Homo sapiens: one gene and its partner. The protein of the gene in region 1 purifies or fractionates together with the protein of each later gene. This does not show direct contact. Each region holds a gene or a part of one and is shown in the gene's direction. Other genes may lie near its edges.

What was found. Proteins that work in one complex are often made in the same cells at the same time.
Region 2: the proteins of REM1 (region 1) and SULT1A4 fractionate together in Homo sapiens (co-fractionation; one large-scale study listed by BioGRID). This does not show direct contact.

What each region holds. Positions count from the first base shown.
Region 1 is NC_000020.11:31,477,568-31,482,875, forward strand, and holds part of REM1 (GTP-binding protein REM 1), read left to right. Parts: intron 1-236; coding exon of another isoform or gene 237-260; coding exon 261-343; intron 344-4,719; coding exon 4,720-4,921; intron 4,922-5,308. UniProt on the Homo sapiens protein: Promotes endothelial cell sprouting and actin cytoskeletal reorganization. May be involved in angiogenesis. May function in Ca(2+) signaling.
Region 2 is NC_000016.10:29,462,429-29,466,062, forward strand, and holds the end of SULT1A4 (sulfotransferase 1A4), read left to right. Parts: intron 1-916; coding exon 917-1,043; intron 1,044-1,138; coding exon 1,139-1,233; intron 1,234-1,731; coding exon 1,732-1,912; intron 1,913-2,034; coding exon 2,035-2,147; 3' UTR 2,148-2,538; downstream 2,539-3,634. UniProt on the Homo sapiens protein: Sulfotransferase that utilizes 3'-phospho-5'-adenylyl sulfate (PAPS) as sulfonate donor to catalyze the sulfate conjugation of phenolic monoamines (neurotransmitters such as dopamine, (R)-adrenaline/epinephrine, (R)-noradrenaline/norepinephrine and serotonin) and phenolic and catechol drugs.

The sequences.
Region 1 (5,308 bases):
AATTCCTAGCCCAACTTTAACCCCACCACCCCACCTTCATTCAATCAATCAAATCTTTCTGGCACCTACTATGTGCCAGGTACTATGGCAGCTGGGGAGACATGGGCTCCTACCAGGAGAGACAGGCATCAAACAAGTGTGATAAGCGTTTCCGAGGACAAGTGGAGGGGGCGATATGACCAGAAATGGGGGGCAGGGAACACCACACTCTCTCAGGCTTGCCCGTCCTCCCTGAGATCCAGCTCTTCCCTCGGTTGCAGAAGATGTATATGAGAGGACCCTCACGGTGGATGGAGAAGACACCACACTGGTGGTCGTGGACACCTGGGAGGCCGAGAAACTGGTATGGCACTGCAAGCAGAATTTGGGGAGAGGGGTGCTGAGCCTAATACTAGACTCCTTCCTGTCCCCTCCTGGGGACACTACAGATCAGGTGTGAGCAACGGCCATCCTCAGCACCCTCCCCCAAAACCCACAGCTCCTAAGCAGTCTTTCCAATCCCAAACAGAAGACCCTTATGACCCTGACCCCTTTTCTCACTCCACAATCCCCTCCTAGCAGCCATCTCAGAATGTACTTCTCCCCCTGCAGATCTCCCCATCATTATTTCCACCCTCTTCCCACCCCTCCCACCCACATTGTACAGAAGGAACGCTGGATTTGGCCCCAAAATACCTAAGGCTGAACCCCCTTTCTTTTTCTTACTAGTTGTGTAGTTTTGTGCAATTGACTTAGCCACTCCGAGCTTCAGTTTTCTCATCTGATAAATGGGTTAACCATTCCTGCCTTCCTCATCAGCTAGTTTTTTAAAGTTCTTATGCAATTTCAGAGGTAAGCCCAGTTTAAAGCATGAAAAACTGCTGAATAGGGGTGAAGAATTGTAAATGATAACTCTTAGTAATTATGACTTGGTAGCTAGAGAAAAAGGAAATCAGGGCAGGAAGACAGCAGTAGGCAGGAATATGTCCCTATTATGATTTTATCTGGTTTGTGTTTTCTTTTCTTTTGCTACATGGGTAATACATGCTCATTGTAGAACTCTGAGGAAAAACACCTAAGCAAAGAGAAGGATCTAAAATCACCTGGGATCCCATCTCTCTAGGGGATAGGCTGCTCAAAAACTAAATGGTGAGTCTTCTGATTCCCATTCTACTGATGAGGAAACCAAAGACCAGAGCGGTTAAATAATAATAATAATGTGTCCAAAGCTCTCAAATAGCAAGTAAGATCCAAACCCAGATCTACAAAATCTTTGTAGATCTTATTCTTTTTTTTTTTTTTTTTTAGACAGAGTTTCACTCTTGTTGCCCAGGCTGGAGCGCAGTGGCGCCATCTCGGCTCACTGCAACCTCCGCCTCCCAGGTTCAAGCAATTCTCCTGCCTCAGCCTCCCAAGTAGCTAGGATTACAGGCACCTGTCACCATGCCCAGCTAATTTTTGTATTTTTAGTAGAGACAGGGTTTCATCATGTTGGTCAGGATAGTCTTGAACTCCTGACCTCAGGTGATCCACCCGCCTCGGCCTTCCAAAGTGCTGGGATTACAGGCATGAGCCACCATGCCCGGCCGAGGCTGTATTCTTATGCATTAGGACTGCATAAGAGTCCTCGTCTTATGACTGTCCTCCCCCTCAAGAGCATCACCTTCTGAACCTTCAGCTGAGGTTTCAGTCATTTGCTCATTCATTCATTCAGAAATACTTGCTGGGTGTCTATCATGGACCAGGACCTTGGAGACACAGAGATGAATAAGGCAGACAGGCCCTCTGGCTTCGTGGACCTCACAGGCTGGTTAGAGGGTCTACTTTTCATATGCAGCTGAGAATGCTATGGGGCAGTCAGTGTCCAGCAAGTTAAGATGGGTGATCAGACTGGGAGTCCCACTCAGGAGACAGGGGAGAAAGGATACTAGACTAGAAGGCGGGAGCTGGAACTCCACACCCAGCTTGCTTTCGCCTTGAGAACATTTTCTCCTCTTTTCTGGCCTTTTATTTTTGCAACCAGCAAAATTAGGAAACTGAACTAGTTTCCCTGATCGGTGACTGTGAAGAGAGGTCTCAAAGAGGGTCCAAGCAATAGCAGCATCATTGAAAAAAGTATCCATCCGTTCCGTCTGTGCGCTACATGGTACTCTGATATCAGAGAGGCTGAATCTGACAGAATTGGATGGGCCTTAGGACCTTAGTGTACCAGGTTGGCTGACCATCAGGACCACTTGGAGTGTATTAAAAATCAAATTATTGGCTGGGCGCGTTGGCTCATGTCTGTAATCCCAGCATTTTGGGAGGCCGAGGTGGGCAGATCACCTGAGGTCAGGAGTTTGAGACCAGCCTGACCAACATGGAGAAACCCCATCTCTACTAAAAATACAAAATTAGCCAGGTGTGGTGGTGCATGCCTGTAATCCCAGCTACTCAGGAGGCTAAGGCGGGAGAATCACTTGAACCTGGGAGGCAGAGGTTGCGGTAAGCAGAGATCATGCCATTGCACTCCAGCCTAGGCAACAAGAGCAAAACTCTGTCTCAAAAAAAATAAATAAATAAATAATAAAAATCAAATTATCAGGCCTCACCCTGGCCCTCACCCTCAGCCTGGGCAACAGAGCAAGACTCCATCTCAATAAAGATAGATAGATAGATAGATAGATAGATAGATAGATAGATAGACAGATACATACATACACACATACATACATACATACATACATACATACATACATAGATACTACAGCCCCACTTTTAGAGCTTCTTATTCTTTTATTTCTTTTCTTTTTTTTGAGATGGAGTCTCGCCCTGTCACCTAGGCTGGAGTGCAGTGTCGTGATCTCAGCTCACTGTAACCTCCGCCTCCCAGGTTCAAGCTATTCTTCTGCCTCAGCCTCCCGAGTAGCTGGGACTACAGGCACCCACCACCACGCCCAGCTATTTTTGTATTTTTAGTAGAGACAGGGTTTCACCACGTTAGCCAGGCTGGTCTCGAACTCCTGACCTCAGGTGATCTGCCCACCTCAGCCTCCCAAAGTGCTGGGATTACAAGCATAAGCCACCATGCCCAGCTGAGAATCTATATTTTTAATCACACTCCCAATAAGTTCATACCAACAAATCCATACACTAACTGGCTTTTGTGATCTTGAAATACAGCAAATCCTCCAAAAATATTTGTGCAATGAATGAATGAATGGTCAAGACTCACTTTCTCATTCTAGAGATGGGGAAAACTAAGACCCAAAGGAAGAAACCTGTCCATACTCAAGGTTGAGAACCCACATCTGTCTGACTCACCCTAAGGTTATTTGGCCTGGGAAATGATCAGTATGGCTGTTGAGAACTTACCCCCCTTTGACAATGACATTGACCACGAATCTGATGCTTTCCTATTCATCACCAAATTCCCATTTGGTTATCAGAAAATTTCTGGCTTCTGGCCGAGCACGGTGGCTCATGCCTGTAATCCCAGCACTTTGGGAGGCCGAGGTGGGTGGATCACCTGAGGTCAGGGTTTGAGACCAGCCTGGCCAATATCGTGAAACCCCGTCTCTACCAAAAACACAAAAAATTAGCTGGGCGTTGTGGCAGCTGCCTGTCATCCCAGCTACTCAGGAAGCCGAGGCAGGAGAATCACTTGAACCTGGGAGGTGGAGGTTGCAGTAAGCCAAGATCATGCCACTGCACTCCAGCCTGGGAGACAGAGTAGGACTCCATCTCAAAAAAAAGAAAAATGAAAGAAAATTTCTGGCTTCTTCACTACCTCACAACCACACACAGTCTTTCTCACTTCAGGCCTTAGCTCTGACTGTTCCCTTTGTCTGGAATCTCTTCCCTCCTGCTTGGCCTCCCCCTCCTTCCTAACCCCATTCGCCAGTCCCCTGTGAAGCCCTCGCACACTCTGCCAGGTGGGGTTGTTCTGGCCTCCCCACCCCACTCCTCCAGCCACTTACACATGTCTCTTACTGGTACTTTCACACTACACTATAACTCCCATTTCCATAAGCTCTCTTCCAGACCATGAGCTTTTGGAGGGCAGAAACCGTGTCTTACTCAACACTTATAAGGTTACTACCCAGGTAGTCCAGTCTTGGAGGGCTGTCCCTAACAAAAGATCACCATCCAAAATATCAAAAGCACTGCAGTTCTTTCTTTTTCTTGGTCAAACAACTTGAAAGGACTCCACTTCTTAAAGTGCCCCTTGACTGTCTCATCCCCTTGTGAACTTACACTTTACAGTTGCTCCTTCACCTCCATCTTCAAAACTGTCCTGAAAAATGCCTTCCCTCTAAAGTCAGCCTCCTGTCCTCACTTTTCTCTCTTTTTTCTCTTCATTCTGGATTTCACCAGGCATAAAGAACCATATGGCAAGACTAAACCCTCCTCAGAAACAAGACAAAAGAGCTAAACAGGTCAAGAGAGAACCCTCTTTAGCAGGAACAGGAACCAAGTAAATTTTGCCTGCACTACCCAGCCTGCAAAAGTATCAGTGAGTGAGAGAATTCTGTGAGGTAGTGTTATTAGCCTAAATTTTTAAGCAGAGAAACTGAGGCTCAGAAAGAATCACCAATTTTCCCAAGGTGACACAGGGAATTATAGCAGAAGTTGTCCCCCACACCTGTCCAAACTATAAACCTCAAGCTGCATCCCACCCATTAGACCATCCCAGCTCCACCTTCCTCAGCCAGGGCCTAGATACCCTCTGAGGATGGGTCTTGGGTCCCTCTCCTGCAGGATAAAAGCTGGAGCCAGGAGTCATGCCTGCAGGGGGGCAGTGCCTATGTCATCGTATACTCCATCGCAGACCGAGGCAGCTTTGAGAGTGCCTCTGAGCTCCGCATCCAGCTGCGGCGCACACATCAGGCAGACCATGTGCCCATCATCCTCGTGGGCAACAAGGCAGACTTGGCCCGCTGCCGAGAAGTCTCTGTGGAAGGTGAGCCCTCCATCCCACCACCTCCTCTTCACCTGGGCCCCACTGTCATGGCTGCTCCTCCAGCGCTCTTCATCTCAGTGACTGTCCCTGCCAAGCTGCCCCTACCCTGCAGCCACTTGCCTAAGCCTGCAAGCTGGGAACCATTCTTGCCTCCCACTCATCACCCCCAAACCAGTCCCCAGATCCTGTCAGGCCACCTCCATTAATTCCACATTCCCTTCCCTCTCTGCCTACAGTCTCTGTGCTATCCTGGCATCTCCACCTTCGCCAGTCCTCCTGCTTCTCAATTATTCCTCCTTGCCACCTGCCAGAATTTTCCAAGACCAGAGTTGAATTTGCACTTCTTAAAAATTCCTGTATGTGGTGGGGCATGGTGGCTCACAACTA
Region 2 (3,634 bases), on another chromosome or scaffold:
ACCTCCGCCTCCCCAGTTCAAGTGATTCTCCTGCCTCAGCCTCCTGAGTAGCTGGGATTACAGGCGTGTGCTACCACACCCGGCTAATTTTTGTATTCTTTTTAGTAGAGACGGGGTTTCACCATGTTGGTCAAGTGGATCTCAAACTCTTGACCTTGTGATCCTCCTGCCTCGACCTCACAAAGTGCTGGAATTACAGGCGTGAGCCACCGCGCCTGGCCCTTTTTTTTTTTGAGACAGTTTCACTCTTGTTGCCGAGGCTAGAGCGCAATCGTGTGATCTCGGTTCACTGCAACCACCGCCTCCTGGGTTCAAGCAATTCTCCTGCTTCAGCCTCCCAAGGAGCTGGGATTACAGGTACCTGCCACCACGCCCGGCTAATTTTGTATTTTTAGTAGAGATGGGGTTTCACCATGTTGGTCAGGCTGGTCTTGAACTCCTGACCTCAGGTGATCTGGCCACCTTGGCCTCCCAAAGTGCCGGGATTAGAGGCATGAGCCACCACGCCCAGCCTTCATCACATCTTGAGAGAGGACACTGTCTGCCTCTTGCTCTGATGAGGGTCTGATGCAAGGATAGTGAGTCTCTACAGTGCACACTTAAGAAAGGCAGCATGTGGGTGCTCACAGGTCAGCGGAGGAGGGGGAGCTGGTGGGGACCAGGCATGCCTTGCTCCAGATCAGGATATGATGGCATTGGTGCAGATTATATTAGTATAGAATATGGTCTCAGGAACCAGGCAGGACTTTGGCTTCCGAGCAGGGTTCAGATCCCAGCTTGGCCCTACCTGTGCAGTGAGATCTCAAGCAAGTCAGCCTCTAAGCCTCAGGTTCCTCCTTTGCCAGTTCAACAGATGAGCTGGCCTGGGGTGGGCTGTGTGGTGATGGTGCTGGGGCTGGGTCCTCTGCCCCTGCAGGTGGTCTATGTTGCCCGAAACCCAAAGGACGTGGCGGTCTCCTACTACCATTTCCACCGTATGGAAAAGGCGCACCCTGAGCCTGGGACCTGGGACAGCTTCCTGGAAAAGTTCATGGCTGGAGAAGGTGGGCTTGACTGGAGGAAGGAGGGTGTGAAGCCGAGGGGTGGTGGCTATAACGTACAGCAACCCTGTGTCGGTGCCCCCTGCCCGCTTCTCTAGTGTCCTACGGGTCCTGGTACCAGCACGTGCAGGAGTGGTGGGAGCTGAGCCGCACCCACCCTGTTCTCTACCTCTTCTATGAAGACATGAAGGAGGTGAGACCGACTGTGATGCTTCCCCCCATGTGACACCTGGGGGCAGGCACCTCACAGGGACCCACCAAGGCCACCCAGCCCCGTCCCTGGGCGGCTCCCACAGCAAGCCCGGATTCCCCATCCTACCTCCCTGGCCCAGGCCCCCCCACTGCAGCCCCACCTGGCAGCAGGCTCGGCACAGCTTTCATCTTCTGCACCTGAGTCAGCTGCATGGGTGGCCACGGATCAGATACTTAGTCCTATTGCTTATCCTCACCAAAGGGTGTGCCACCCAGGGCCACAGTCATGGAAGAAGACCATCCCGGTCCTCACCCATAGGCGCCAAGCCCTGTTCATGATGGGATCACAGGGCAGAGATCAATTCATTTTACTCCAGAGACTAGGGCCCCAGGGGTTGAGGCTCTTTGGGGTTTCTAGGGGAAGTGGCCAGATCCCCTCTGAGGTTAGAGAGGGGGACCCGTTTTGTTTTGCTCCACTGAGGAGCCCTCTGCTGCTCAGAACCCCAAAAGGGAGATTCAAAAGATCCTGGAGTTTGTGGGGCGCTCCCTGCCAGAGGAGACCATGGACTTCATGGTTCAGCACACGTCGTTCAAGGAGATGAAGAAGAACCCTATGACCAACTACACCACCGTCCCCCAGGAGCTCATGGACCACAGCATCTCCCCCTTCATGAGGAAAGGTGGGTGCTGGCCAGCACGGGGGTTTGGGGCGGGTGGGAGCAGCAGCTGCAGCCTCCCCATAGGCACTTGGGGCCTCCCCTGGGATGAGACTCCAGCTTTGCTCCCTGCCTTCCTCCCCCAGGCATGGCTGGGGACTGGAAGACCACCTTCACCGTGGCGCAGAATGAGCGCTTCGATGCGGACTATGCGGAGAAGATGGCAGGCTGCAGCCTCAGCTTCCGCTCTGAGCTGTGAGAGGGGCTCCTGGAGTCACTGCAGAGGGAGTGTGCGAATCTACCCTGACCAATGGGCTCAAGAATAAAGTATGATTTTTGAGTCAGGCACAGTGGCTCATGTCTGCAATCCCAGCGATTTGGGAGGTTGAGCTGGTAGGATCACAATAGGCCACGAATTTGAGACCAGCCTGGTAAAATAGTGAGACCTCATCTCTACAAAGATGTAAAAAAATTAGCCACATGTGCTGGCACTTACCTGTAGTCCCAGCTACTTGGGAAGCAGAGGCTGGAGGATCATTTCAGCCCAGGAGGTTGTGGATACAGTGAGTTATGACATGCCCATTCACTACAGCCTGGATGACAAGCAAGACCCTCCCTCCAAAGAAAATAAAGCTCAAAATAAAATATGATTTGTGTTCATGTAGAGCCTGTATTGGAAAGGAAGAGAAACTCTGAGCTGAAAGAGTGAATGCCCGGTGGGGCCACATATGGTCACCTCTCCCCCAGCCTTCAGCTCCCCAGGTCACCATATCTGGGGAGGGGAGAAGGGTTTGGAGAAGTAAAACCCAGGAGATGTGTGGAGGGGGGATGTCTGTTTAATCCCAGCACATCCTCTGCTGTCCTGCCCCAAGATGGTGGAGGACGTCGAGTCCGCCGGGCAGCGTCACTTTTTCTTGGGCTCCTTAGAAGCTACCAGGTACCTCTGGGCCACACTGAGATGAGGGGAGTAGCCGTCTGCATAGGAGGTGTCTTCAAACAGGATAGAATAGTCCTCCTGGGGCTGTGGGGCAGGTGGACAGGAAGGGCAGAGAGCAGCCCCGGGGCTGGTGTCACTCACTTGTTGGTGGCATGGCTGTAACTGACCACCTCGGCCAGGATCCACTGCTCATCCCCATCCACGGCCTTCACCCGGGCAGCCACCTTGTCTCCAGGTCTGGCCACGTAGTCTCCTGAGGCAGGGATGGCCCCACAGAGGGGTGGGGGCCTGTGAGTGGAACAAAGGATCAGTCCCAGCCCCTGGGCACCAGCCCCTTCCTCGCAGCTGCTGCCCTCACTTGTCACCAGGCTTCCCAATCCACAGGGGCAGGGTCATGGCCGACTGCTGCAGCAGGGTCATCAGCACCCCTCTGCGCATGGTCTTCCGGGGTGGCTCCAAGTCATTGTAGAGACCCGCGATCTTGGCCACTGTGGGAAGAAAGGGAGGCCTGAGGCCCCAGGGACAGGGGCTGGCCCTGACCCCCCAGCATGCTGAACTGAGCTGCTGGAGGAGCACCTGGGAGCCCCCAGCTCCCGAGTGAGCCCGAGGGCACAGCAGGACTGTGACCTGATCTGCCAGGTGTCCTACAGGGGCTGCTGCGCTCAACTACATATGGGTGAGACGGCAGCACACCAGGCACCCAGGGGAAGGAACCAGGGAGGGACAAAGCGGGTTCTGAGGTGCTGGTGAGGTTCTCTTCTTGATGTCGGTGCTGACACAGAAGTGTGTTTCGTTAGTGAAAAGTTCCT